7 separate regions of the Homo sapiens genome follow, and regions 1, 3, 4, 5, 6 and 7 are each linked to region 2. The links come from fine-mapping of genetic effects on gene expression. A gene starts in region 2. Each other region holds a variant in brackets. All regions are shown on one strand. Distances are from middle to middle.

Region 1 (4,069 bases), 66 kb before region 2:
AATAGACCAGAAAGAAGAAAGGAAGCAGCAGGAAATGGGCGGAAGTGTTAAGTTGCAAATCCTGGCAGCATGCCCAGAATGGGACCAACTCAGCAGACAGGAAGCGAAGGCAATAAAAGAGCAATCTACGCTACAGGCAGGCTGGAGCAGAAACTCGGGAAAGGAGGGAAGACAGATTACTGGAACAGCCAGTTTGCAGGGCCATGAAACCCGAACTCTTTTCGATCCGCCTTCCTGGCGAGTCTTCTGGCTCTGAAACTTTGGGAAGGAAAACTGATACCCATAAATAACTGTGGCTGTATAACTGCAAAGTGGGATAAACGTTTCATCTTGATTAAACGTAAGGTGACTCCTGACAAAGAACTGTGGTTGGCTGACTCTGTGGAGAGGCTTGCAAGATGCTGTCATGACTACATGTGGGAGTTTGAGAAAACTGCAAGATGCATGTTGCAAAAAGACATATTAAGCTTTCTGCTGTTTTCCAGGCACTGTATCAGGAGCTGGTTGGGGGAGTGATGAACGAGATAGCATCCTGTTAACAAGCAGTAGCAGACTTCCCATGTTACATTCTCTCAAACAGAGAGGAGGTCAGGCCAGATCTGTTTCTCCTCAAAAATATAATCTCAAGAAAAATCAACTGGTCGGATCATCACTACCTAACCACAGATCTCCCTCCTTATTCTTCACAACAAGAATCCGTCAAATAAGTAACGTCATGGTTAATGCTCCTCCACATTCAACCTGGACCCTAAATCCCTCTAAATAACTTGACTCTGTTCATACACAGACCACCCACTTTACCAGTCTCAAAGGATGGACCAGAACAACTATTTCCTTGAGTTAATGAGTGAACCTACATCTAACTGTAAATAAAACACTAAAAATAGGTAACTATTACTTACTAAATGAAACCCAAGTGTAACTTTCCATTAAACTCAACCTGAATAAAGTTTTTAAACAGTGAACCTTTTAAAACAGAAACCAGTCTGTAAGCATCCTAAAGCTAGTCAACCAAGACAGAAGTTAAAACACAAGTATTTTCCAATCAAACTCAGCACCATTCCAACTGAAGCTTCCACTTGGGGCTGTGAAACCCTCTTTGGACGTAAGCTATGCTGAACCTGTGGTTTCAGGCAGGTTATATTGTAATGATAGGGGAAACCAATGCCACATCCACTTGCAGTGTCTGTAGAGAACTACATCTTGCCACACATCCAAGATCTCATTCCTCAGTCTCCCTGAAAAATTCTGTTGGTAAGAGAGAAGTGAGACAGTGCTGTTTCCGAGGAATCTTATGCCTCTCTTTATTCTACAACAAATGGAGACAGATGGAAATAGAAGAAGAGGCAGCAACAGGACAGGAGAAAGGAAAGAAAGGGGAAAGGAAGGTAACAGAAGGGCAACGGGGGAAGGGGAAAATAGACAAATCATAGCAGAATGCCCAGACACGACACAGGTCAGGTGACAGAAAGGACAAAAAAGATGGGAGAAGAAAACCAAGAATGAGGCCAGAAGAAGGGAGAGGAGACACCATGGTGATGGGAGCAGTAGAGAGTGTAACAGAAGTAGGATGGAGAAATAAAGCAAGCAAACAAATTGCTCCCGGGAAAAAAAGCAAAAAGCAGACTTACGAGCAACCAAAGACCATAATTTCCAACACCCTCAGAGAGCAATAATTAGAAGCGCAACAGTTGGGAATTTGAACATGGCTGCTGACTAGGCCCGACCATCAACGGGGTCTGATTCCGGGCCTGATCCTTGACGATCTCAAGGATTCACCAGCCTCTCTCCGAACTCCAACTGCCCGCCATTTGTTCATCAACAAAATCATTCTTTCTACCTCCTAAAAGAATTTTTATTCCTATGACATTGCAAGGTCCATTTATAAAAAGCCTCATGCAAGTTCTCAGAGTCATTACACTGAGAATGAAACAGCGTGATATGTTAAGTAAACACATACCGAGTCCGGAGTTTCTTGCTTCCGATGCGTTCGTGGTCTAACTTCACAAACATACCCGCGGACCTTTGCGGCAAGTGTTACAGCTCTTAAAGACGGTGCGTCCGGATGCTCCGGTGAGTTTGTAGTCTCACTGACTTCACGAATAAACCCGCGGACCCTCACGGTAAGTGT[G/T]ACAGCTCTTAAAGGTGATGTGGTGAATTTTAAAGCCCTTAAAAGTGGTATGGACCCAAACGGTGAGCAGCAGCAAGATTTACTGTCACGAGCAAAATAACAAAGCCTCCGCAATGCGGAAGACAACCGGAGCAGACTGCAGAGGCCTGCGTGCGTGGCCAGCTTTTATTCCCTTATTTGGCCCCACCCATGCCCTGCTTATTGGTCCATTTTACAGAGTGCTGATTGGTCCATTTTACAGAGTGCTGATTGGTCCATTTTACAGAGTGCTGATTGGTCCATTTTTACAGAATGCTGATTGGTGCATTTACAATCCTCTAGCTAGACACAGAGCACTGATTGGTGCATTTACAATCCTCTAGCTAGGCAGAAAAGTTCTCCAAGTCCCCACAAAACCCAGAAGCCCAGCTGGCTTCACCTCTCAATATTTTAAAGCTCAATGTAACTCGGAGAAAACAGCAATTAAGTAATACCACAATGCAGTTAGCTACCAGAATTTGGGGACAGGAATTGAAACCACTCAGTGAAATCTAGAAATTTCAGATTATAAATATGTGCTTTAAATATAAATAATATAGTATGCCATACTTCTTTTCCAAATGAGGTAAATCACTAAACTTAACTGAGCTGAAATAAATCTGAGGCTGGTGTAGCAATGTGTATAAATAACCGTGGTAAGATTACCAAAACACTGTTGAAATCTGGGTATCTTTGAGAGCTTTCTCAGTACCTGCACATGGGTAAGTTGAAATACTTCTATTTCTAACATACCTTTCAACTGACAGGTTAAACTGGTATATGCTGATGCCCACTTCCTGGCATGCATGCCATCCCAGACACCTCCATAAGCATGACCTTATGAGTCTCACAACCATCCACTGTCGTGGGTGTCACCCCAATCCTACAGATGAGGAGACTGAATCTGAGGGTGGCTCAGGTCACACAGCTGATCACTGGCAGAGCCAAGATATGGACCCAGGGCTTTACTCCAAGTCTGAGACATTTTGTAAGATAACCAGACTGCCTCCATGGCTCACACCTCTGACCAGAAAAGAGTTGACTAGCAATTTTTTTTTTTTTTTTTTTTTTTGAGACAGAGTCTCGTTCTGTCGCCCAGGCTGGAGTGCAGTGGCACAATCTCGGCTCACTGCAACCTCCACCTCCCAGGTTCAAGCCATTCCCCTACCTCAGCCTCCCAAGTAGCTGGGACTACAGGCACACGCCAACATGCCCAGCCAATTTTTTTTGTACTTTAGTAGAGACGGGGTTTCACCATGTTGGCCAGGATGGTCTCATCCATCGTGATCCACCTGCCTTGGTGATCCACCTCGTGATCCACCTGACCTCGTGATCCACCTGCCTTGGCCTTCCAAAGTACTGGGATTATAGGCATGAGCCACAGCACCCAGCCTATTTTTTCATTCTTGATCCAAGTTCCTGCAAATTCAGAAAACCTTCCTCTTATGCCAGTTAAGATTGCCCTGCTAGCATTTTCTTTCTATTTTCATTATTTATTATAACTATTTATGTCATTGAGGAGAAATTCGTTGTGTTCAGAAGACTGTACAGAACTCAAAATATTGCCCTACATGTATATACATAAATATACACACTTCAAAACTAAATATATAGACAATTTTTCAAATGCTTAAGGTTAAGAATCAGTTTTATGAAACAATGTAGAAATATCAACAGAGATTGAGACAAGTTGTGGGCTGCACTGTAGTTTATTATAGCAAAGATCAGCAACCTAAGAATGAGATAAGGAGGTTTAAAAAATTAAGGTGATTTCATCCACTGGAGTATGTGCAAACATTAAAATTAATTTTAAGCAATTTTGATGACAAGAAAATGCTGTGATATAAGGCAATTTTGTTAATAGGTATATGCATTTTCAAAAGCCCAAATCATTAAGTGATAATTTCAGAGTTTTAGGGT
Region 2 (4,069 bases):
CTCAATTTTCTATCAAGGATATTTACCATCATCACATCAAGTTCCAGTCTGTCCCCATTCCTCTTCCTCTGGGAACAGCTCCACCAATTTTATGTCTGGAAAGGGAGGATGACCAGGATATGAGACCTACCCTTAGACAATCATAGGTCCTATGGGACCCCATTCCCTTGGCCAAAGCATTTGGTCTAGGCAGGGTTAAGCCTGTGACAAAGGCTTCATCAATCACAGTCAATGCATTGAACACTCAGTGAGAAAGAAGCAGTCTAGAATAGGGCCAGAGGCCTGGAAATCTTCTCTAAAGCTGCATCTTTAACGTATCTCAACTAAGAATCGGCTAAGTACTTGTGAAGGCTGGTGAGAGAAATGCCTGTCCAAACACAGGTGGCTTCAATAGTGGCACCCCTCTAAGATGTAGTGCTATAAGGAACCTGAAGACTACCATACCCCATTTGCATCAGCTCTGACACCTAAAAAGGATAAAGACAATGGAAAAAAATGCATAATTTTTAGGAACGAGACTGGCCTTTATTATCCTTCTTGACTAGTATTATTAATAGCAGTTACTATAAATTCCCCACTTATGTGCCAGAAACTACTGAGTATTTTACCTATATTATCTCGTTTAATCCTCACACCTTCTCCTAAGAGACAGGTAGTATTATCCCTATTTTACAGACGAGAAATTAAAATTAAAGAGGCAAGCAACTTGCAAAAATCACTGAGCTAGTCAGTGGCTGGTCCAGGATTTGAACCTATGTCTGACAGGTTTATGAGTTTAGCCATTACAATATACTGTCTCACTACTCTTCTCCATTGTTTCCCTCCATTGAGGCCATTGCTTCTTTGTTCCTGCAATATGTCTAACTATTCATTGGTCCTGCTCCTGGACTGTAACACAGTTGAGAGAAAGGAGACTAGTGTTTAGATATCTGATCAAGAAGACCCGAGACCTCATTGATTCATTGTGGAAGCAACATCTTCCACAACGACAGTTAATCTGGTATGCAATTCTCAGCTATACTGTTTTCCCTCCCAAAAAAGGGTTAATAAGTCTGTGATCCAAGAGATTTGCAGTAAGCCCTAGAAACAGCTAAGCAACGGCTGTTGAATCCCATTGGTGTGCCTATAAGATGCTACCTGGTGTAGAGAACAGAATATAATTCTCTCTCCTAGGAATTTAGATGCGCCCCTCCGCCCCCCTGCCAATACACACGCAAGGGGGCATAGCAGATGATGGCACATGTCCCATATGCAAACATGAATAGTAAACATGCTTTAGTACAGCTGGAGCTACTGTAGCAGAAAGTCAGGTTGTCTGCTACTCCACCTGGTCTTCTTAAAGGATTGGGTCTGGACATTCACCTCTCAGTGACTGCCACTCCCCATATATATCACAGGTTCAGGCTCTGCATTCAGCCCATTCGGAGTGTGTGAGTGCTAACATGGAACTCTCCAGGAGACAGCAAGCAGAAATGTGGATGATTAAAATAAAGGGTTTTCTTTGGCAATCTCAATTGCAAATGAGGATAAGGAAAATCCTCCCAGCTCACACTCTGCTCCCAGCTACTTGTTCTTGAGTTAAATGAGGGCTTGGCTCTGGCCTCAGGGGGCAAGAGCACTGTTCGTTATTTGGTGGTGGGGGAGGGGGTTGGGGGATCCGTCAGCACTTACATGCCTTTAGAGAATCTGCCTTTACAGAACTTGAAGAGCTCTGATGGAGGAACAGAGATGCTGTGGTGGTAGTGGCCTTGGAGGTGGTGGTAGTGGCAATGGTGATGATGATGATGATGAAAGAAGAAGAAAACGGTGATGGTAAATGTCATCTATAAACACAAGCAAAAAGCAGCAACAGATACCTTTCTAGTCATTGCCAACCATAGTCATGAAGCTGCTTCTGTTCCCAATGCAATCCCATTGTGGTGCTCCCCCTCTGCGCTAAACACATCCAGCTTCAAAAAAAAAAAAAAAAAAAAAAAAAAGCTCTGCATCTCTCCGTCCCCCGCCCTCCCGCCCTCCCGCCCTCCACCTTTCCTGTGCCAAGCTGGGAATGAGACTGCACTGGCGGGTCAAGGGGGCTGGGACCTGAGAGTCAACGACAGGAGTTCTGTAGTGAGGAGCGTTGGGATGACCCGGAGGGCCCACCAACGTACTTGGGAGCAGCTTGGTGGGGGAGCTGGAGGAACCGACACAGAAGGGGAGGAAGATAAGCTGGCGGGGTAAATAGACTTGATGCCTCATTCCAAGAACCCTGAAAGCCACGGGGGAAGGCGGAGCAGGCAGCCTTTGGTCGGGAAGAAGAGACGGGCAGATGGCCAGCAGAACAGACAAGACTCTCTTTACCTGACCAATACTCGGGAGGCTGGTCCCGAGTCCCAGCTACTCGGGAGGCTGAGGCAGGAGGATTGCTTACGGCAACAGCCGTGGCGGCTGCAGCCTCGAAGGATGCTGCGCTCCAGTCCAGAGCCAAAGCCCAAAGGGGCAGCTGCGCCGACCTCCACCGAGGCTCCGCCCCACAGGCCACAGGCCCCGCCTTCCTAGCACGCGCCGGCCTGACGAGCTGTTTGGGGGAGGTGAGCAGTAAACTGATCGGCAGGGCTGAAGACCAGTGGAAACGTGCAGCGGCGCCCGAGGTGGCAGGGGAGGCGGGGCGGGAGGCGGCGGTGCCCAATCAGCAGCCGAGCCGTTGGGCCAGGCTGGGAAGCAGTGCTGTCTTTTGGCACCGTCTGATCCGGGCTGAGGGATTGAAGGCGGTGGTCGCTAAGCTAGGTCTAAGACGGACAGCCAGGGCGACAACCAGTCTCTCGCTACGTGTCCCCAGCTTCCCTGTTTCCGAGCGCCTCTCAAGGCGCACGCTCTGGACTTGTTCAGATGGGGGAAGGGAACTGGTCTGGAACTCCCCACTATTCCCGAGGTTCCCACGCCTCCAGATCCGGAGAGGCCGTTTCGCTCCAGTGGCCTGGCCCCCCTGCCCCCTCAGCCTAGCCGTTCTTGATCGTAAGTGCTAAAAGGAACAAAGAAGGAGAATTCAAGAATCCACACATAAGCCCAAACCCTGACAGGAGCCTTTTCCTCTCCCATCTCCTGCCTACGCTTCCTCCTAGTAGCTTTTTAACTGCTGGCGGTTAAGTTACTTTGACTGGTTTGAATTAAACGCAAAATAGGTTTAGGCTGAGAAATGGGCCAGACCCTTGGCGATCTGAGAAAGAAAGACTGAGTCCGGATGTCAAGAGGCCTGGGCCTCACGAGGGAGTTTGTCTGCTTATTTGAACACCTCAGAGTTGAAGATCTTGTTACTGCTATTTCTGTGCTGGTGAATCAGTACAGACCTTGATGCCAAGGTACTGTTTTGTCCCCAAGTGTCTAATCATTACTGAAATGAACTACCTTCAAACCTTTCCTAAGAGGATTTGAGGCCTTAATGTCGTTGAGATTTGGAATGTGATTTGAGTGACACTGAGATCTTTTCCAAGTAGGTAGGCAAGAAAAGGCATTGTCTTTAATCTGCTTTTGGATAAATGCGAACTGTATCACCCATTTGGTACTTGAAGATAGAATTTTGTCCTGAATAGATTCTGTTTTCAAATAAGTAAATGGGAAAAAAATTTGGAAGGTATTTTTAAGGTGATTTTTTTCACTATTTTTTTTCTAGAAATAATAGTTTATTGGAACTCTGATTTATTCTTAATCACAATATTAGCCAAACACTGATAGGCCCTTTATTTATTTGTTTTTTTAACACACGGTCTCACTCTGTCACCCAGGCTGGGGTGCAGTGGTGCGATCTTGGCTCACTGCAGCCTCAACCCCGTGGGCTAAAGCCATCCTCCCAACTCAGCCTCCAAAGTACCTGGGACTACAGGCGGGCACCACCATGTCCAGCTAATTTTTTAATTTTTTATTTGTAGGGACAGGGTTTCACCATATTGCCCAAGCTGGTCTCAAACTCCTAAGCTCAAGCGATCTTCCCTTCTCAGCCTCCCAAAATGCCGAGATTACAGTTGTGAAGTGCTGTGCCCGGCTCCATAGGCACTTCATATACATTATCTCCTTCAATCCTCATATCTTCCCC
Region 3 (4,069 bases), 57 kb before region 2:
TTTTGAGTTACAATGTTTCACAGCTAAAATAAAGGTAGCCTATACATGGGAAATATTTTGCTTTTTGAGTTTCTCCCTTCATATTATCTTCCAAAGCCCCGCTTTTTTTGGTCTCCCAAGGAATGTTTTTTAAGTGTCAAAATTCACACAAAATGTTTGACTTGCACTTTAGATGTTAAATATACAACTATTTGAGGATCTTGCGCTAGAAGGTTCTCTACATAAATTATTTTTTCAAAAGGCCAGTGTAACCTTTTGAGAGTCTTTATCATCTCACCCTTTTTCTGAAGTCCTGTTTTGTAAAAATGTGCCCTTAGAAATAAAGAGAATATTGATTTTGCAATGTTGGTACAAACTGGACAACAGCAGGAAGATCTCAAAATAAGATAAGCCACTGCACAGCACAGCACAGAATAACCCAGTTAGGGAGGAGAATGTCTGCTCTGTCAGTCTGTCTTCCCTGGCACTGCTTCTCGCTGGCATCAAGTAGGAAAGATCCCTTTCAGCTTGACACAAGTATGCACTGTCCTTCTGAAATATGAGAAAAGCAGTTCCCTCAGGAACAAGGAGGCCTCGTGCCAGAGGTTAGTGAAGCTGGAGAAACCGAGAGCTTGGCTGGCAAGGACTGTGTAAGATGGGACTCTCTCTGTTGGAATGCTAGTGGAATCAGTTAGGTTACTTCCCCAAGGTTATGCAATGTTCTTAAAATATACTACTTAACACTGGATAGAATTCTTATCGTGCATTGCGTACCAATACTAACTGTTCTATTCTATGAACCAAAAAAACCATGGAATGTCTTTTCCCATCACCCACATGCCCTGCTGTACATAGAGTATACAATTGGCTGATTATGTTTTGGTCTTCACCCTTCTAGAATGAGTGTGAGCTCCATGAGGACAGGAATTAGCTTTGCTTTTTTCTGTTTTGCCTACTGCTCTGTCTACTATACTTAGAACAATGATGAATATATGATAGGGATTCAATAAATATTTGTTGAATAAAAAATGTTTTGAATGCTTTTGTAGATATAAATATAAATAATCAGAATGATGGAGCTGTGTTCACTACTTAAGTTCAGAGCAGATGGCTTCATGGCCACTGAAATTATCCCCATGACATCACAATGTGGTACAAAGGGAGGACACAGGATTTAACATCAATGTTGTCCCTCTGCTGTTTACTTAGCAAGGTACCCTCTCTGAGTCTTAGCTCCATCCTCACTCAAAGAGAGATGTCATTATCTGCTTCAGGGACAGGACTGTTAAAAATTGCACAAAAGTATATGTCTTGGAGAGGTTTAAATTTCATGGGAGAATATGAAAAACACACATTTTTATGCATATATACAGTCTACCCACGTAGACAAGAAAGACGTATAACCATAAACACAGAGACAGACGTGTTTGGGAAGAGCTTCAAATAGGACTATGGAATAGTTCTTAAACTCCCACTTCCTAATTTTATAACAGATTTCAGGGTGAAAATGTCTAAGCAAGTGGTTTTTTTTGATGAACCATGTTTTAGTTATTTCCTCCTAAAAACAGAAGCAAGGATCGTGGTAATG[G/A]CTCTACAGGGTTTGGCTCTGAAATGTGTCATCAGTCAAGATAAATTTGTGCTGGTCAATATAACCCTAAAAACAATGTTTTCTCTTTAATTTCTATCACCTGTTTTAAAGGTATTTTTATCTGCTATATTGAATGCAAGTCCCTTAAATGATTTCTGGAATGAGGTAGAACATAACCAAATAAATAATTTTTTAAAGTAGACAGAAACATGCCAGGCATGGTGGCTCACGCCTGTAATCCCAGCACTTTGGGAGGCCAACGCAGGCAGATCACCTGAGATCAGGAGTTCGAAACCAGCCTGGCCAACATGGTGAAACCCTGTCTCTACTAAAAATACAAAAGTTAGCCAGGCGTGGTGGCGGGAGCCTGTAGTCCCAGCTACCTGGGAGGCTGAAGCAGAAGAATCGCTTGAACCCGGGAGGCAGAGGTTGCAGTGAGCCAAAATCACAACACTGCACTCCAGCCTGGGCGACAGAGCAAGACCCCGTCTCAAAAAAAAAAAAAAAAAAAAAAAAAAAGACAGAAAAACATACCCTCCCCAAACAGGGATTTTTAAGAGAATCTGATAACAATGTATGTAAAAGTTCTGGGTAAGCAATGAAGTGTGTACCCACAGATGTCACTGAAATTGGTGGTTCTTATTCACAGCTGGCTTTCAGCCCATGCCACCCTTGCCTTTCCCCATTCCCTGTTGCCATGGGACCTTCACTGTTGCCTGCACTCAGTAGCAAAGCACCTCTTCTACATTTGCCTCTTCTACTTAAGAGGCCAGGGTAGGAGTTTTAGAAGCATTCCAGAGTTCCCTCTGCCTACCTTGAATGAGAAGGGTAGCTATATATATTTCTAAGAGGAAAAAGGAAATCTGTATGATTCCAAACTAATCCCAAAGAGTAAGACATGACTGATCAGTAGAGCCCCAGATTAATGAGCTCAGAGGATAATGTTTAATGATATCACCAAAGAAGTGTCCACATTTCTTCCCAGGAGAGGATTCTGATTTTTATTCAGATTCCATACAAGAAATTACTTTTCCTACCACCACCGGACAATGTATTTCCTTTCAACATACTATGTAAAATGCTTGCACATTTCTTTACACTGGGGTATGGCTTCTCTACATGATTACAGACATCAGAGCTAAGAGGGGAGCATCAGGTACTGCGGTTTCTTAAAGAACCCACCACCATACAGCTTGCCCAACAAATTGCCCTTCTGCTGTGTTCCAGGTTTTCAACTCATCCCCTGTTACAAGGCACAGTCATGAAGAGATGAGGGACTGCAGCTGCAGTCGGCCAGACCTGGTGTGACTCTGGGTTCTGCCTCTTATTAGCTGGGTGACATGGGCCACGTACTTCACTTCTCTGACTTTCCATTGCTTCCTCTGTAAGATGGAGATAATAATAACTATTGTGTAGATTATGGTTTGGCTTCAATACAATATTTGTCAACTGTCCAAGTCAGTATCTGGTACACAAGAATAAAGGACTGCTGTTGCTGTTACTGCTATTTGTTAACCAGTATCCATAAGCACAACTGCCTGCTATGACACAGGACAACGAAAGTGATGAAGGCACATGAGCAGATAAAATAAACATTGGAAAAGGCCTCCAGGAAATGCTCTGTCAGCAGGAACACTATCATTGACTGCCTGTACTTGAGGGAATCAGATTTCTATCGAGTAACCTAAAGATGAGTAGGTGAAATGTATCACCGACTCTTGGCTCCTGGGCTCTGCAGCTGTTGCTCCTTATCCTCACTAGCTTCATTCAGTTTCATTTTTCTTCCCTTTTGCTAATGCAATGTGGCCTATGCAGGTGTCCCTATATTCCCATCATCTCCTCCTCTGACATCTCTCCCCAAGGACAGTCTGGCACGTCCCTCAACGTTCCCAGCGAGATACTGCCACCTTCCTCTTGTCTAACCTCTCAATGTGGGCATACAGAGGCTTGAATTATCCTAGCAAACTTTGTATTTTCATGGGTTACTAGATAACCTGACTCCTCCTGGAAGTGAGGATACTATTGCTGTCTTCATTAAACCAGGTACACAGCTTTGAAACAAAGCTCTGATTATTCTAAAACACAGGGTTCTTCTAAGTATGAGAGCTATGATTTAGGGCTCCAATCTGGCTCAGATATCGGTTCACATCATCATGCTATGTCCCTCCCAGCATGAAGAGATGGTGGCCATAGTAGTGGGAGAGGAAAACAAAGGGTTCAGGGCAGAGGCTAGGAGCAGCATCCTTCCAAAGTCTGCTCTGGCCCTTCACTATCTCTGACCTAACCTCAAAATCTCCTTGTATTTCAAGACCCTGGAGAAGTTCTTCATGAAGTAATGATGAGTAGGTTCGTCTAATCTCTTCTGGTGAATGGAGGACTAGGAGAGGATGAGAGGCACACTGGCCATACCAAGCCCACAATTTTCCAGTCTGGGGATATTACTAATGATATTTTAATAATTATGTAAGATTATGACACGTAACAGACTATCATAACTTAATT
Region 4 (4,069 bases), 82 kb before region 2:
TGACACGTTTACCTATGTAACAAATCTTTACATGTATCCCCAAATCTAAAATGAAAGTTAAAAAAAAAAAATGCAAGCTCAAAGAACATTTCACTGTAAATCAGGAAGTCTAAAACCTTAAAAACCTAAAAAAGTAAGACAGTGCCCATGGATGTTTAAGTTAGCACCAGCACTTCACCTAGCAACTGGACACAGCAAGTTCCCATTAAATATTTATTGAATACATAAATGGGTAAGTGCACGAATACTCTTCAGGCAAAAAGTATATTGAATAAAATTTGGAGAAACAATTTGGTAATAAATATTAAAATAACTGATAATTGTCATACTTTTGACAATATAACGCTTCTCCTAGGAATCTACCATAAACAAATTCTCTAAAATGCAAACATTCTATGCAAAAATACCTGTCAGATTATTAGGACACTAAAAAACCATAAGCAAGTAAAGTGTCCAGAATTAGGTAAATAATACATAGATGGTCTATTCTCTTTGCAGAATTGTTCACAATAACTGAAACAATATTTATGAAAAGTTAAAAAACACAGGAAATGCTTATAACATGTGGAACCAAAAGGTTATGTATCAAGTTCAGGAAATTTTTTAAAGTACAGTAAAAAGACTGGAAATAAATGTAAATTTTAGCAGTAATTTTTCTATGGGTGGTGATAATGGAAGGTTTTTTTCGTATCCTTATGAATCTTCTATATTTTTCTATAATGGCCATATAATAGTTTTGTAACAAAAAGGTAAAATTCTGTATTAACCAAGGAGAGCATTTTTTGAGAATAGCTATTCTGTCATGCATCTCAAATAATATCAGTAAAACACGTCCCCCCGCCCCTCACATTGACGCTTCTTTTTCTTTTTAATATTTGATTATATTCAGATTAAATTTATATAAACACAGATCATTAAAGCATTTTGATGACTAACAGTCTTTTATTTAAAAATGCAATATTAAATCCCAATTAAAACTATTTTGCTATTCCTTTAGCCATTTTCTCTGTTATTAAAACAAAAATAAGAACAACTTGTCAGTATTTTTAGTCCATTAAAATTTTCCCACATTAAAACAATTTTTAATGTCTTGGCATGCAGTATATTTTTACTAACCTTAAAGAAGTTCTAAAAACAACTCCTTTACATTTTTCAAGATGCCTTTGTACAGCAATTATGATAATTATTCCGAGTAAATGAGTTAACACATGTGAAAAAGTGCTATGGAATTATAAACTGCCATTCAAATGTTAGTTTTACATTTTTATGGTATGCTATTCCTGACCTTACATTCATTTCTCATGGCATATTTCCATTTCCCTCACAATCTATGAGATGATTCATTTGTGTGTTTTCCATGGTGCTTTGCACATGCCCTCTATAAATCACACTGATTTTTAAAATGTACATTGTAAAATGCTTTCAACCCTACACAAGTTAATTTAAAAAATAAAAAAACTTAAAGGATCCTTTGAAATGCAAATCGAAACCTCAGTAGGATACCACTTCACTGGGATGGCTATAATTAAAAAGGCAGATAACAACAAGTGTTCATGAGGCTGTGAAGAAGTTGGGACTCTCACAAGATTGCTGGTGGGAGCCTAAAAT[G/A]GTACAGCAGCTCCAGAAAACAGTCTTGGCATTTCCTCAAAAGGTTAAATCAAGAATTAGAATACAACTCAGCAATTTCACTCCTAGAAATAAATCCAAGAAATATAAAAGCACATGTCCACACAAAAACTTGTACACAAATGTTCGTAGCATTACGCATAATAGCCAAAAGGTGGAAATAACTCAAATGTTTGTCTACTTATGAATGGATAAACAAAATGTGCTATATCCATATGAAGGAGTATCTTTTGCCTATAAAAAAATCTCAAAAACATGCTAAGTAGATGTGGCCAGTCACAAAGACCACAATATTGCATGATACCACTTACATGAAATTTCCAGAACAGGCAAATCTACGGAGGCAGAAAGAAGCTCAGTGATAACTTGGGCTGGACGGGGTTGTGGGAAAATGGTGAGTGACTTCTGATGGTATGGGGGTTTTGGGGGAGGTGATGAAAATGTTATAAAGTTGATTTTGATGATGGTTGTACAACTGAATATATTAGAAACCACTGAATTGTACATTTTAAATGAGTGAATTATATGGCATGTGTATTATATCTTAATAAAGCTGTTTTTAAAAAGACTCAAGTTACCATTTTATATGAATTGGTTGTATCACATTTTACTGTAATTTTTTGGAAAGAACTGTAGTGTTAACAAAGTTTTTGTATCTTTTTACAATTTCATGTCTATGAAAACAAAAAGCTATATAAATAAAGATTTTAACCACAGCATTTTTATTGGTTTCAACTTGGAAACAATTTAAATGTCTAATAATGGATTTAGTACCATAGTCATCTACATGATAAAATGTTACCCCTTAAAATTATAAAGGTATAATTAAAGAGATGGTATATAAACATTAGAAGTTTGAAATAATGTTAGGTGGCAGTGCATAAAACAAAATATTTTTATATAATTTTGTTTCCATGACCTTTGTTATTTAAAAACACCTATCTCTATGAAGAGTTGAGGTGGTTGGATTATAGAAGATTTTGTTGTTCTGTACTAGTTTTCTTACATAATTCTTTTAATTAAGAAAAGAGGAACTGTTATTGCTCCATTAAACAAGTACTAAGCACAACTATGCAATGAAATTAAAAGGTTCCCTAGAGATGCCGAACCTAAGAGCATTCGGTACCTGCAGCAAAGAATTTCAGGCACTAGTGCTTAGTTTAACCCCTATCATAAAAACACTCCAAAGATATTAGAGGCAAGAAGGTGGTTACAAAAATTCCAGCTCATCAACTGACTGGCCTATATTCTACTTGTACATCTGGTGTATTTTTTCACCACTACTTGTTGAGTACGTGATAACAGTCACGGCTGCCCAATCAACAGAATTTTAGGATATTTTCCCTGTTCTGCTAGAGATCACATGGGAAATGTGGGTTGCTAGGAAGTGGTGTGGGTAAATGGCAAGAAATGAAGGGCATTTGCAGCAGAGTTATCCAAATGTCAAGGCCTACACAGCTACTGGGTTTATATCGTCAGAAAGGTTAAGCCTCCAGGTTACAGCTGCCCTAGGCAGTCCTGGTGTACTGGGACAAAGGGGAAGGCAGGGAAAGTCTAAGAGAACCTTCGCTGTTAGGTGCTTTGACAACAGTGTCTTCTCTATTTTCTTCACAATGCCTCAGTGTGGCGGAACAAAAGAACAAAATACTTATATCTAAAGTACAACCAAAGTGTTTAACACCCCCAAGGCATATCTACCTCTCAATATGCTGTTTCAAATATCTGCATTTATTGGTGTAATTTGGATGCTTTGTGGCCAAAGCTTGACCTGTGTACTGTGTGATCATTTGTTAGGGGGTTGCTCACTTTCTGACATATTCTTACCTAAAGGTCAGTGGGCTCCTTGACATGAATTCAAACAACTTCAGTGAAGTAATTAAACAGGATGAGTGTTGCCATGTATTTGTAACGTAGGTCCACTACAAAATTTGAATTATCTATTGTTTTAAACTATATAAGCTTATTTTTTTCAATTAATAGTTCAGTGATTTCATTCCAGCCTTTCTTTCTTTACAAAATTTTTGTTGTTGTCTTATACTGTTTATGTAACATAGATGTGAACATAGGGTACGATATAGACAATTATGCAGCCTCTTTTTTCCAACAACAGTTTGCTCCTCCATGAAGTACGACCCTGCTCCCCCATCTTTAGTCAATACCTGCGCTCCTACAGAAAACACAAAAATCATCCAGTGTCAGTATACGGAGGCACCTTCCTCTACAGCCCACCTCATACCCCAATTTAAATAGTACCACCACCCACCTTCTGTTACTTCTCCCCCTTCTAGACAGGGGCCCCACGTTGAACACTGTGCATTGGATTCCTGGTGCTCCACCTCAGAGCCAGCTTCCATGGCCACGTCAGTTCTTTCATCTGTGACTCCTTCCAGACGGTCTTACAGCTGAGGCCCCTGAGGTACCAGCACACTTCAAAACAGAGCCT
Region 5 (4,058 bases), 89 kb before region 2:
GTACCAGGCACTCCAGCATCTGACACAGTGCCTGTGTTTAGTAGATATATAATAATATCTGTTGAATACAATAATTGTTGAATATACATTACATGAACAGTTTTATGTTCAGAACATCCAGGTTTTTCAGGTGATAAGATCTACTCTTTTTTATCAGTCCTAATGAACACTTACTATTGAGCTTAGCATAGACTCTGTAGCAGAACAGTTTTGGTTTAAATCTCAGCTCCAACCTCTTACTAGCCAAGAGACCTTGGCAATTTGTTTAACCTCTCTATGTCCCAGTCTCCTCTGTGAAAGGGGGAAATAATGGTTCTCACCTTCTGGAGTTACTATAAAGATTAAAGAGTTAATATTATACAATGGACTCAGAGCAGTGCCTGGCACCTATAGTACATAAACACTGGCTGTTAGAATTATTACTCTCTGCTCAGTGCTGAATTAGACCCTGTAGAGGGCAAAAAGGTAGAATGAGACAGAGCTCCATTTCTCCAAAGGATTCACTTTCGAGTTCCAATGAATGGTTCAACAAATGTGTTCTCTAATTTTATCCATTGTGAAATATTTGAAATGTTGTTTCTCATCCTCCCTTCAAACTAAAATATACCAAAGGAGAAAAACAAAAACCCTAATCCACCAAAATGAGCTTCATTTTGTTATGTAGAAGAGTATTTAAGGTGCCAGGGTCTTTTCAGAATGTTTTGTTCAGCAAAGTTATCATGGTTTCTATTCTATTACACCTTGAATTTATTTGGTCAAGCTTAAAATTAACCCAAATCATCTTTAATTTAGGAACCTGTTTTTAGCATCTTATCACTATCTGAAAATTGCCCTTTTCTTCCCCCTGAGGTAATTTCAAATGTTATTTTACCATGCCTTGGGGGCATAATCCTACCAGAAAATACAGCTCCAATTTAAAATGCAAGTCAGAAGAAAAATCAATTTACTAAAAGAAAATTAACTTCATCGGCAAAATTTTCAGGAAGGAACTGATCCTTAAAGTTAACAAAATCTGTACTAAGAATAAAATTGAGTTCATCATATATTTGTCAGCTGAAAAAAACTTTTATCAATACAGTCAAGTGCATGATAAACATTCCCTAAAACGACTTCACCAAATGATAAAATAGAAACTTTTGAGACTCACATTGGTAAGAAATGATAAGATGCACAAATTTGTCAATAATGGCTTCAAAACAACAAAGAGCATTAGACTGAACTGTATGGTGCTGACAAGTATTTCAGGAGTCATGTTTTTACTTTGGGCTTAAATTTTACTTATAAATATGTAAGTGGACTTTCTTGCCAAATTTTCACGATTTACAATTTAAAATGAGTCACAACAGTGACTTGTTGCTAAGGAATAGAAGCACCAAATAATTTATTTTCTTTTTATTTGAAATGACAATTATATGTATTACTGATAGAGATGCAGGAAGTTTGAAAGCCACAACCACCCTGGTATGTGGTTGGGGAAAATGATACAACAGAGGACTCACTCAGCACAACTGAAACATGAGATGAACC[T/C]AAGATAGCGCCAGTCACTGAGAACTCAATCAGCTAAAGGAAATGAAAATAAAATTACTAGGGAAGCTAGTAATACGTATGTATTCCTGAAGCAATGTTTTCCACCTAATGTAATTCTCAAATAGTTTTGTGATTTTCCATGGAGCCAAGGATTGTGTGAATTAACTGAAAAAGAAAAAAGAGTAAAGGAAAAATGAGATAATTTGATATAAATTTGTAAAGGTATTACTTTACTAAAGGGATTTGACACTACTTGCTTTGCAGAAATTAAAATATATCATTTCTATGTTAAAAACAATGCTAATTTCAGTCTTAATATTTGCACCATCCAAAGAAAGAGCAAAAAGCTGAATCTAATTGGTGGTGATTTCTGTGATAAGCAATAAGCAAAAGATAGAATGACCCTCTCCCTCTCCAAGAGCTCTGAGAGGTGGTGGAGATGCCCTGGGATGTGGCACTTTGCAAGCTGGGGAGCTATCTCACTACATAGTACATGCTCTGGTCTGACACAATCTCTCTCACTGTCTTCAAAGAGGGAATGAGCAACCAAAGGGTTAATATTAAACATTTTTTTCCCCTGGCTGTAATGATTCTAAGACAGGTGCTCTCTGTGCTCTGGATGTTTCATTACTAAATGGAGCTATGTCCCCACTGGTCAGAACTGGGGAGCAGGGGTCATCCCTCAGAATTAGAAACAAAGACTTTCCTTGGGCCACTTTGAGATCCTCCTGTCAAGAAAAAAATAAAACGGACAATAAAAGGGTAGGGGTTGCAATTAATAGCTAGCATAATTTACCCTATTAAAAATAGGATTGTAGGGGATTTGGTGGGGTATCAGAGGAATCTAGAGGATAATTTAGCAGAAGACTCCCATAATATTATCTAGATGGACTGTCAATGGTTCAGACTTCTCAGAAATAAACGGTTGTCTTCACCAAAGAATCCAGACCAGCTGAAATGCTGCCTAAAGGCAAGGCTGACTTGAAATGGGTAATGACTGGGGAAAGGTTTACAGACTATATGGCTTTGAGATCAGGCGGAAAAATAGGGAATCTTGACTAAAACTGTATTTTCTTATGTACTGTTTGGATATCTAAAGATTAATTACTTCCTGTTTTCTCTTTCAATAAATATCTACTTTTCCTTTTCTTCACTTTTTTTTGGTCTCACTACTGGGATATATTATTTACAATAAAAGTATCCATTGATTCATAAGGTTATAAAATGTTGTAATAGGACAAGAAAAAAAAAACTTCTCAGCAACGACTCAAAGAACAGGGTGCCTATGGCATCACTCCAGATCTCATTACTGTCTGAGCTTGTACTGTCTCCTATTAGTGAGAAAGGGTTTGCAGTTATGCCTGGTAGAGCTGAGTCTGCTGCTCTTTGATGTGTAGCATGAAGGGGTGAAAGCTGGAAAGTACCCCTTAGAATGGCTGTCCATCCCATGATTGTTCTGCCTTCTCTCGGAACTGCTCCCAGTACATAAGGGGAGGCTCTGAGCAGCCATGTCTCAACCTGATCTGGAGTCGCTGGATCTGAATCTTATAAATGGCAGAAAATATCCAGGAACTTTTGCTTATGGGATTCTCAGTACTTCCTGGTTGCCACCTGGCCCAATATTACTATTCAATTTTTCCTTGCTTCTTAACATACCATAATGTTCTGTAAATAAATTCCTATTTTGATTACAGCTAACCAGAATCCACACACACACACACACACACGCACGCACACACACACAGACACAAAACGCTAAGCAACGAGAATGCCAAAATTTCATTTGGCATTGTCTCTGTGGCCTTTTTTTTAAAGTCAGCTTTCTTCAATGTGTACATGATTCTACAAAAGTGTATAAACATCATTTAAATCTATTAGCTTTTAGAGGAATTTTGAGTCATTCTGATATATCCCCAAATTTTCATCATCTCATGGAACTTCTCAGGAGCATCCAGCAGGGTTGAATGCATACTTTTTCTTGAAGTTCCTTTTCAGAAAACACTCTTTCCATCCAAGTTCTCCTGAGTTCACTGTTCACTCTTCAGTTGCCTTGCTGGCTCCTCATCCTTCTAAATCAGTGTTCTAAATCTCAGCACCATTGAAATTTTGGGCCAGATAACTGTTTTCTGTGGGAGGATGACCTTTGCACTGTACAATAGGATGTTCAGCAGCATCCCTTGACCTCTACTCACTAGTTAATAGTAGCATCCCCTCCCCAATCCCTTGGCCAACTAAAATCTCTGAAATCGCCCCTAGTTGAGAAGCACTGCTCTAAATGTTTCAGCACCCCAAAGATATGTGCAGAATCTTCTCTGTCTTCATTCACTCCATCTGTCATCTCATTCAGTCTCAGTTTTAAATATCATCTCAGCTCTAGTGACTTCCAAATTAATGTATCTGGCCATAAGCTCTCGCCCTATCTCATACAGGCACCCAAGTACTCTACTCATTGCTTGGCTAATACTCATTCCAAACTCTTTATTTTCCTTCTAACTTTGTTCTTCCCCCAGTCTTTCCCACCTAATTAAATA
Region 6 (4,069 bases), 120 kb before region 2:
TCGTAAACCCAAATAGGGATTTCATAGAGAACTTACTCAGGATCGACTGAGCCACTTCAAGTCCGGCTTCTGGTTTTGCTGGTTCTGACACATCACTGCCATCCAGAGAATTATCAACGTTCTCCATGTCTCAGTAATGCCCTTGGTGGAAGTTCTGACTTGTGTTACCTTCTCCTGCGCTCTCAGTTTATCCACTCCATCTGCTCTTAATTTACAGGACAGAGAGCAACAGGACCCGGGAGTCAGGCTGTCAGCCGCACAGCAAACACACTTGGTCTCTTTCGGGTCACAGTGCCCTCCTTCCGGTTTGTGCGATGATGTGTTCCAGGGCAACTGTGAAAAATCTGTGGAGTCTATGCCCAGAAGCAGCCGAGGCTGCGCACCTTACTACACACGGACCAGGGAGGCTGCTCTTCTGAAACTTCCGTATTTATTCCCGGGGACAAAAGCCTTTTTGTCATAGGGAAAGTCAGCCTGCCCTGTAATCCCAACCCAGGACTTCACGAGGAGCTCCGCCCCAGGCCGGCGGTTCTCCTGGTGGCATTCAACTTCCTCATTGGTGAGCAAGTGAAGGCTTCTGAAAGTGCTGAGCCGGCAAGCTGATACTGAGGGCACTTAGCCACTGCCCAGAGCAGCCTAAGGGAATCAGAAGTAAATCAGCAGAAAACAACTGAAATACTTCTGACACAGGCCTTCTTTTTCATCTGGATTATGATCAGAGAGGCCTGGGGCATCCAGGCCAAAAAACTAGCAGTACACCCAGATCAGCAGCCACTTACGAAGCCGCAATCAAGGAAACAAATTAAAGAAAGCAATAGATCATCTCAAAAGTGCCTAGAACTCTCAAAGCAGTTAATTTACTGCCCTTGAAGCTTTTTTTAAGTGCTTTCTTCCGCTTCCCTGCAGGTTTCATCTGGAATGCAGATTTTAGCTCCTAAAGCCCGTGAGGGATAACCCACACGACTGGTTTCAGATGACTGCTGTTTTAGCTCTGCCCTAGCTGTCTCAGTGCTCTACAAACAGGTATTAGGCAAGCACACCCACCACACCCAGTGTCCACCAGCAACAGGGTGGCAGAGTAAACAGCCCAGGCTCCGCAGGAATGATTACCCTCTACACTCCCTGTGCCAACCGCAGGCTTCTTTCTGCTCAGCAGCTGTGACTTCCTGGCTGCCTTAGAAATCCTGGCAGCAGCAGGACACGCCTCTCCCCCTTTGGTGTCCCAGCCAACTAAATGAAACCTGGCATGACACAGTGTAACACACAACCTGCCCTATTAGACAAAACAATTTGAAGATCCCCAAGGATCCACGTTCTCCTAAAGGGCAAAACATCTGAAAAGTCTCTATCAGTCAGATCTCTATCACAGACCCAATTTGCCTCAACAAAAACAGGACAGACAAAACAACCTCCAAACATCAGCCCAGTGTAGTTTCTACCACTCTATTTATATGCTGGGAAACTGGCAACAAAGGATGGGGGTAAAAATTGCAGCCCTGTTTCCTAGCTGCATAGCTGCCTCTTGGGACAGCTCCCTATCTACCTGAAGGCCTCAAGTGTTTTCCAAATCCAGTCCCACTAAGCAGGCATGCAGTGAGTGCCTGGGATGGACAGGACACTGTTCTGGTTGGAGAGGCAAGTCAAACTGGCTGAACAGTAATTGCCATCTCTGTTTGAGCAAAGGTCCAAGAAGATTGTGGTCAAGTGTTAAACACAAACAGTAATTCCTTCTGCAAAATGGAAATGGTAGCCATAAGGAAAATGACAGTCTTGCTTTATCTGCAGGAGTGGGTGGCTGCATGTCACACATTGATAACTTGAGCCATGTTCTTCAGTACTAAAAACAATCTAAGCATCAATACTGAGAAATTCTGATTGCAAAAATACATTTCTAGCAATGTATTCAAAAGGAACGCTCACACAAATAAAAACGCATCATTGCATCCCATCAACCACTAAGGGTAAGTAAAACACTTTCTAAATCTTGATTTGATCTTGTGTTTTAAACAGGTACTTCTCTGTTTGCTCCTGATCATAGTATTTTTGGGAATTATTAACTGAGGCACTTAATCAAAAAGCCACCAGGACACTGCAGAAAAATTCAATGGTGTCTTTTAAGTCTAAGAACAAGATTCTTGTCTAGAGGAAATACCCATTGATTAAAATCAGACATCTGCTTCTTCAAGATTGTAGAAAGAAGAAATGATCACAACAGATCATAAGATCAGTCTTTCTCTTTTTTTTTTTTTTTTTTTTTTTTTTTTTGAGACCGAGTTTCGCTCTTCTTGCCCAGGCTGGAGTGGAATGGTGCAATCTCCGCTCACCACAACCCCCGCCTCCC[G/A]GGTTCAAGTGATTCTTCTGCCTCGGCCTCCTGAGTAGCTGGAATTACAGGAATGCGCTAGCACACCCGGCTAATTTTGTATTTTTAGTAGAGACAAGGTTTCTCCATGTTGGTCAGGCTGGTCTCGAACTCGTGGCCTCAGGTGATCCGCCCGCCTCGGCCTCCCAAAGTGCTAGGATTACAGGCATGAGCCACCGCGCCCGGCCTAAGATCAGTCTTCTTACGAGCAATGCAGATCATCCAATTCTAATATGGCAGGGGGCAGTGGGAGAGGGCACGTATTTGGTCTTTTTTTTTTTTTTTTTTATGAACTGAAAAGACTCAATTTCTCAGACATAACTAATTATTGATTTCTGGAATAAGCTTCCAGGCCCCTCTATAGATTTGGGCAAAATGGAACAGATGCTGGAAGGGGCTACTGGCCCTTCTGCACCATGGCATGGAGCAGAATTATAAGGTTTCAGTATCCCCTCAATACTCATAGATGCCAACACAATTTCATGGGAAGTGGGTCAAGTCTTTGGTCCCAGGAGATTATCTGATTTCATCCCCTTGGCTCTAGGTAAGTAAGGTATTATTAGGCCCATTTTTAAAGGTAAGCAACCATAGCTGAGAGAAGGTAACTTGCCAAACTTAACACAGCTAGTAAGTGGGGAATAACATCATCTAAGATTTGAGGGTTGACCATGTGCCAAGCACAATTTTAGGTGCTCCACACATATTAACTCACTTAATACAGATAACAACCATATTATGAGTTGTTATTATTATTATTCTCTTTTTCCTGCTAGAGAACCGAGGCACAGAAGATTAAAAGTCTTGCCAGTCCACAGAAACAGTGGATGGTGGAAGTATAATGTGAATCCATGCAGGCAGGCTCCAGCATCCACACTCTCAACCACTCTTCGAAAGCCCAGAGGCTCCACTTCCTTCCCGAATAGAAGACCACACACAGCGAGGTGCAAAGGTTTCAGCCCAGTTCATTGGTGGTCTTTAACTGGGATGTGAAGTATACTTTATCCTCTTAAATGACACAGAAGACAAACATCACCAAAAACAAACAAACAAACAAAAAACAACAACCTTATACTGAGGATGACTGTTCTTTTCTTTTGCATAACTTGGGGAAAAATCTACAAGTTTTCTTAGGAAAAAATGGAGAGAGAGGAAAGAAAAATCAAGCAAAAATTCCAGTAAACCTAGCTGGCCTATCTATCTAACACAGAAGAGACACGGAATCCTCTGGGCTCAAACACATCAAGGTTTTCCAGTTTGCCCCTACCATTCTCCTTCATTTATGAAGCATGACTTCTATTAAGAAGACTTCTTCATCCAATGTCATAAATGAGCACCAACAATGAATGAGGCTGTGAGGACATAAGAATGAAGATAGCCCTGCCTTCCACCTCCATGAAATGTGTAGTTTAGTTGGAGATCTCTATTTAGAAAGAGGAGACTCTTGTTTACAGACTGTAACCAAGGACTTTATCCCCCAGGTTCAGTCTAATAGTAATAGCTAGACCTGAAACAATTTTGAATGAAAGCCAGCAGTGACCATTTAAATATGAACACGAGTAACAGGAGCACGAGTAAGATTCAAAGAGATCTTTTAACACGGACTCTTTCAAGCCACTGGTTCTCATGACCATAAAAAATGTTACCACTGCTGGTCACTCAGGGAATGAGAGTGTTTCAGATTGTAATATTCAAATAAGCAACCTACAAATT
Region 7 (4,069 bases), 110 kb before region 2:
ACTAAAAACAAAAGAAAACAAGTCCAGAAGTAGTGGAGCGGTAGAAGGACTTAACATTTAAGTACTTGAGTCTAGACTCAGATCTGGGTTTAAATCCTGCCCGTGCCCTTGCTGATTTGTACAGTATGTATACTAACACCTCTAAGGGCAGGGTCTGGCCTTTAGGAAGTGATCGGTAAGACATGGAGGTTCTTATTACCGTTTAGACAGTCAAGCTTGGGAGGAGCCTTGGTAATTACATCCAGGTTCATAAGATACAATTACTTGGAACGGGATGCTTTGTCTTCCCCAGACAATTAAGCTAATTCAGTAAAAAGTATGCAGGGCCTCACAGGTGAGAAGGGGATTGTGATGAGCCTTGGAAACCAGAATCAACAAGAAGAGTTCAGGGGTGTGTGTGTGTGTGTGTGTGTGTGTGTGTGTGTAAGACGGAGTCTCGCTTTGTCACCCAGGCTGGAAAACAATGTGTGTGTGTGTGTGTGTGTGTGTGTGTGTGTGTGTGTAAGACAGAGTCTCGCTCTGTCACCTCTGCCTCCCAGTTCAAGCGATTCTTCTGCCTCAGCCTCCCGAGCATCTGGGATTACAGGCGCCCACCGCCACGGTCGGCTAATTTTTGTGTTTTCAGTAGAGACGGGGTTTCATCATGTTGGTCAGGCTGGTCTCCAACTCCCGACCTCAGGTGATCCACCTGCCTCGGCCTCCCAAAGTGTTTTAAAAGCTGGCATGCAAAATCTTATTTCCAGAGAGTACTGCCACCAGGATATAATCCTAATGACTACTTACCTGTTTCCTGCTTTTCATATCTTTGTTTTCAATTTCAGGCCATACCTCTTTTTAGGGTCTTTTCTACCCACCCATGTCTTTGTTTATAGACACATTACAAACTATTCTCCATGGTGAGCATTCCTCTCCAATGGTATCTTCAGGAAACTGCACTTGTTATAAGAATTTAGGCCCCAGTGCTTCTCTAGTCTCTGACTATATTCAGTTGCCTTTGATAAATCTGGTTGAAAGTGCCCTAGGACCTGAGATGCATGGCTAATGGTAGCTCCTAGTTCAGTGGAACATAAAAAACTGACTCTTCAGGCTAACTTCTTAATATTCATGTCCTAAATGGGCGCTCCGGGGTGACTGATAGATGCTACCCAAGGGCAATTCACACATTTGGATCTTGTTTCAAAAGTAATATCTAGGAGTGATAGAGTTAGTTAATAAAATATAGGATACCCAGTTAAATATGAATTTTAGATTAAAAAAAACCAAAAAATTTTGTAATATAGGCATGTCCCATACAATATTTGGAAACTTCATGGCCCAAAAGTGGAGCTGACAGAGCTTTGGGTTCAGTCTTTCCAGAGCTTTGTAGTTTGCCCATAATAGTCTACAGAATTTGCTTGACCAGGATTTGCAGGATAATTACCCAAACAGAGCTTCCCTACACAGCAGTCTAGCATCTACACCAAAGTACCAGTTGTGTGATATACTGATATAATGAGAAATACACTGTATATTTCGTCTTCATCTGGGTCCTGGACAGAACTTCTAAAACCCTCGTAACTTCTTAAGTGATAAGAGCCATAGAAGTAGTAATAATATTTGGATATACTCAAATATATTCAAATATATATAGAAGTTGTAATATTTGTTTTTTGTCCTCAGCTTCTGAAACAGCTCAGAAACAATATTGGTGAAAGGGGCATCTTTTGTTATTCAGAACAAGCCCCTTTCAACTACACTTGAACTTATGTTAATGAGGTGACTTTTAGAGGATGGGAGGCTGGTTGCCAAGGGAACCTTGTGATTAGGGTTGGCATTTTGCGTCCCAACAACTCACCTCCAGGAGGGTAGAGAGGCTAAAGGTTGAGCTAATCACCAATGTAATGAAATCTGCATAAAAACCCTACCCAAAGAAGTTCTGTCTCCACAGGGACAGACGCTCTTGTGCTCTGGACCCTTCCAGACCTCACCCTATGTATCTCTTGATCTGGCTATTCATTTGTATCCTTTAAAAATATCCTTTGTAATAAATTGGTAATGTCAGAGACGTTTGAACCACAGCGACTTCATCTTGAATAGGGGATGGGTAAAATAAGGCTGAGACCTGCTGGGCTGCATTCCTAGTAGATTAGGCATTCTTAGTCACAGGATAAAAAAGAAGGTTACCACAAGATACAGGTCACAAAGACCCTGCTGATACAGGATGTCATAAAGAAGCCAGCCAAAACCCACCAAAACCAAGATGGCTACAAAAGTGACCTCTGGTCATCCTCACGGCTCATTACATGCTAATTATAA[C/T]GCATCAGCATGCTAAAAGACACTCCCAACAGTGCCATGACAGTTTGCAAATGCCATGGTCATGTTGGGAAGTTTGCTTATATGGTCTAAAAAGGGGAGGGACCCTCAATTCCAGGAAATCCCTGCCCCTTTCCTGGAAAACTCATGAATAATTCACCCCTTATTTAGCATACAATTAAGAAATAACTACAGGTATATTCAGTCAAGCAGCCCACACCACTGTGCTCTGCCTATGGAGTAGCTATTCTTTTATTCCTTTACTTTCTTAGTAAACCTGCTTTTACTTTATGGACTTGCCCCAAATTCTCTCTTGTGTAAGGTCCAAGAACCCTTTCTTGGGGTCTGGATCAAGACCCCTATCTGGTAACAGTAATAGTCAGTAAATTGTTTCCTTGGGTTGTACAAGTTATCCTAGCAAATTACTGAACCCGAAGAGGGGGTCATAGGAACCTATTTGTATCCAAGTTGGACAGAAGTTATGGGTAACCTGGGAACCCACTACTTGTGACTGGCATCTGAGGTGTGGCAGTTTTGTGGGACCGAATCCTTAACTTGTGGGATGTGGCTACAGTTCCAAGTAGATCGTGTCAATTGAATTGTGGGACATCTAGTTGGTGTCTACAGGCAATTGGGGAATTGCTTGTTATGAAAAACACGTACACTTGGGTCTCAGAATGTCAGAAGTGTTGTGAAGGTAAAGGAGGTTTTGTTTGTTTGTTTGTTTTCATTTAGTTTGTTAAATAGATGCCCCCAGAGTCTTCCTAGTGCTTGTCCTACACCAACCCCACCTCCTGCCATTCCCCAAGGAACCCCTGAGTCTTCTCATAGTTTAGTAACTAAAAGATGAATGCCCAGCTAAATGAGGGGACTTAGTAACAGCTGTAGCCTTAACACCAGTGTCCATCCTGACTCACGGATGCCAACTCCCACCAATTATTTCAAGTATGAGATGTTTTACCTTTCATCACGTACTAATGAGAGTCAGTGTAGCCACAGAAAAAGGCTTAAGAAAGTTAACATCCTGATTGTGACGCTGCAAGTCAGGTTTAAAACTGGAAGCACGGCAGTGCTGGTCCAATGTCTCAGGCTGATCAATATATTGCTTAGAGTCCAAAGCCCACCAGAGGAAAGGGGTTTTTGTGAGCTGCTAGTCATTAACAGCAGGCTATTTTTTTCTTCTTTTTTTACTTTTTGATTTCTGTAAGCTATTGGGAAACAGGTGCTGTTTGGTTACATGAGTTAAGTTCTTTAGTGGTGATTTATGAGATTTGCACCCATCACCCAAGCAGTATACACTGCCCCAATTTGTAGTCTTTTATAGGATACACATTTGTTCTAAATAAGTAGAATCCTTTCAGATAGAAACCTTACCTAGAATATCAATATTTAAACATATAGGAGTCAAATCACACTGTCCAAAGAGGGGAGAAGGGCTTGAGGTGAGGAAGGAAACACAGGGCCCAAACTATAAAAACTGTTGATTCAGAAAATAATCTAAAAAAACTATTTTAGTTTTATAATTCTGATTAATGAAAAACTAAGCAACATACTAATATATACTGTTTAATTACACAGTATTTATATATACAAATATATATATCACATGTATTTATACATATATTAAAATTATACATATATACATATGCATAATTTATATATCATATATGTAATATATAAATATATAAAGCCCATAAAAGGCTAGTTCAGGAAATAGACATTTTTCATCTAGTGATAAATATCAAAAAACCTAAAAATACTTATAGAAAAGAATCCA

What was found. PIP is the estimated chance that this variant, and not a neighbour inherited with it, causes the effect.
Region 1: its variant is fine-mapped to the expression of FMN1 in whole blood (TOPMed, PIP above 0.99).
Region 3: its variant is fine-mapped to the expression of FMN1 in monocytes (Quach 2016, PIP 0.95).
Region 4: its variant is fine-mapped to the expression of FMN1 in atrial appendage (GTEx, PIP above 0.99).
Region 5: its variant is fine-mapped to the expression of FMN1 in whole blood (TOPMed, PIP above 0.99). The same link has a PIP of 0.9 or more in blood mononuclear cells.
Region 6: its variant is fine-mapped to the expression of FMN1 in thyroid (GTEx, PIP above 0.99).
Region 7: its variant is fine-mapped to the expression of FMN1 in whole blood (INTERVAL, PIP above 0.99).

Annotation. Positions count from the first base shown.
Region 1 is chr15:33,126,590-33,130,658 of GRCh38, forward strand. All of the region lies in intron 4 of FMN1 (formin 1), which reads right to left. Among named protein-coding and RNA genes, the nearest start is that of FMN1, 66 kb to the right of the region's middle. The variant G/T (reference allele first, on the strand shown) is at 2,132.
Region 2 is chr15:33,192,238-33,196,306 of GRCh38, forward strand. FMN1 (formin 1) reads right to left here and starts at 2,477. Exons shown (of 21, transcript NM_001277313.2): 1 at 2,341-2,477; 2 at 1,672-1,823. It overlaps LOC105370759 (a long non-coding RNA gene), which reads left to right and starts at 2,674. Exons shown (of 3, transcript XR_932090.3): 1 at 2,674-3,338. RefSeq lists silencers at 2,456-2,795, 2,570-2,779.
Region 3 is chr15:33,135,029-33,139,097 of GRCh38, forward strand. The region is part of intron 4 of FMN1 (formin 1); the gene reads right to left. Among named protein-coding and RNA genes, the nearest start is that of FMN1, 58 kb to the right of the region's middle. The variant G/A (reference allele first, on the strand shown) is at 1,568.
Region 4 is chr15:33,109,782-33,113,850 of GRCh38, forward strand. All of the region lies in intron 4 of FMN1 (formin 1), which reads right to left. Among named protein-coding and RNA genes, the nearest start is that of FMN1, 83 kb to the right of the region's middle. The variant G/A (reference allele first, on the strand shown) is at 1,609.
Region 5 is chr15:33,103,042-33,107,099 of GRCh38, forward strand. All of the region lies in intron 4 of FMN1 (formin 1), which reads right to left. Among named protein-coding and RNA genes, the nearest start is that of FMN1, 90 kb to the right of the region's middle. The variant T/C (reference allele first, on the strand shown) is at 1,528.
Region 6 is chr15:33,067,758-33,071,826 of GRCh38, forward strand. The region is part of intron 5 of FMN1 (formin 1); the gene reads right to left. It overlaps LOC124903459 (a long non-coding RNA gene), which reads left to right. Exons shown (of 2, transcript XR_007064574.1): 1 at 1-1,961; 2 at 3,133-4,069. Among named protein-coding and RNA genes, the nearest start is that of FMN1, 120 kb to the right of the region's middle. RefSeq lists an enhancer at 1-133. The variant G/A (reference allele first, on the strand shown) is at 2,342.
Region 7 is chr15:33,081,630-33,085,698 of GRCh38, forward strand. All of the region lies in intron 5 of FMN1 (formin 1), which reads right to left. Among named protein-coding and RNA genes, the nearest start is that of FMN1, 110 kb to the right of the region's middle. The variant C/T (reference allele first, on the strand shown) is at 2,296.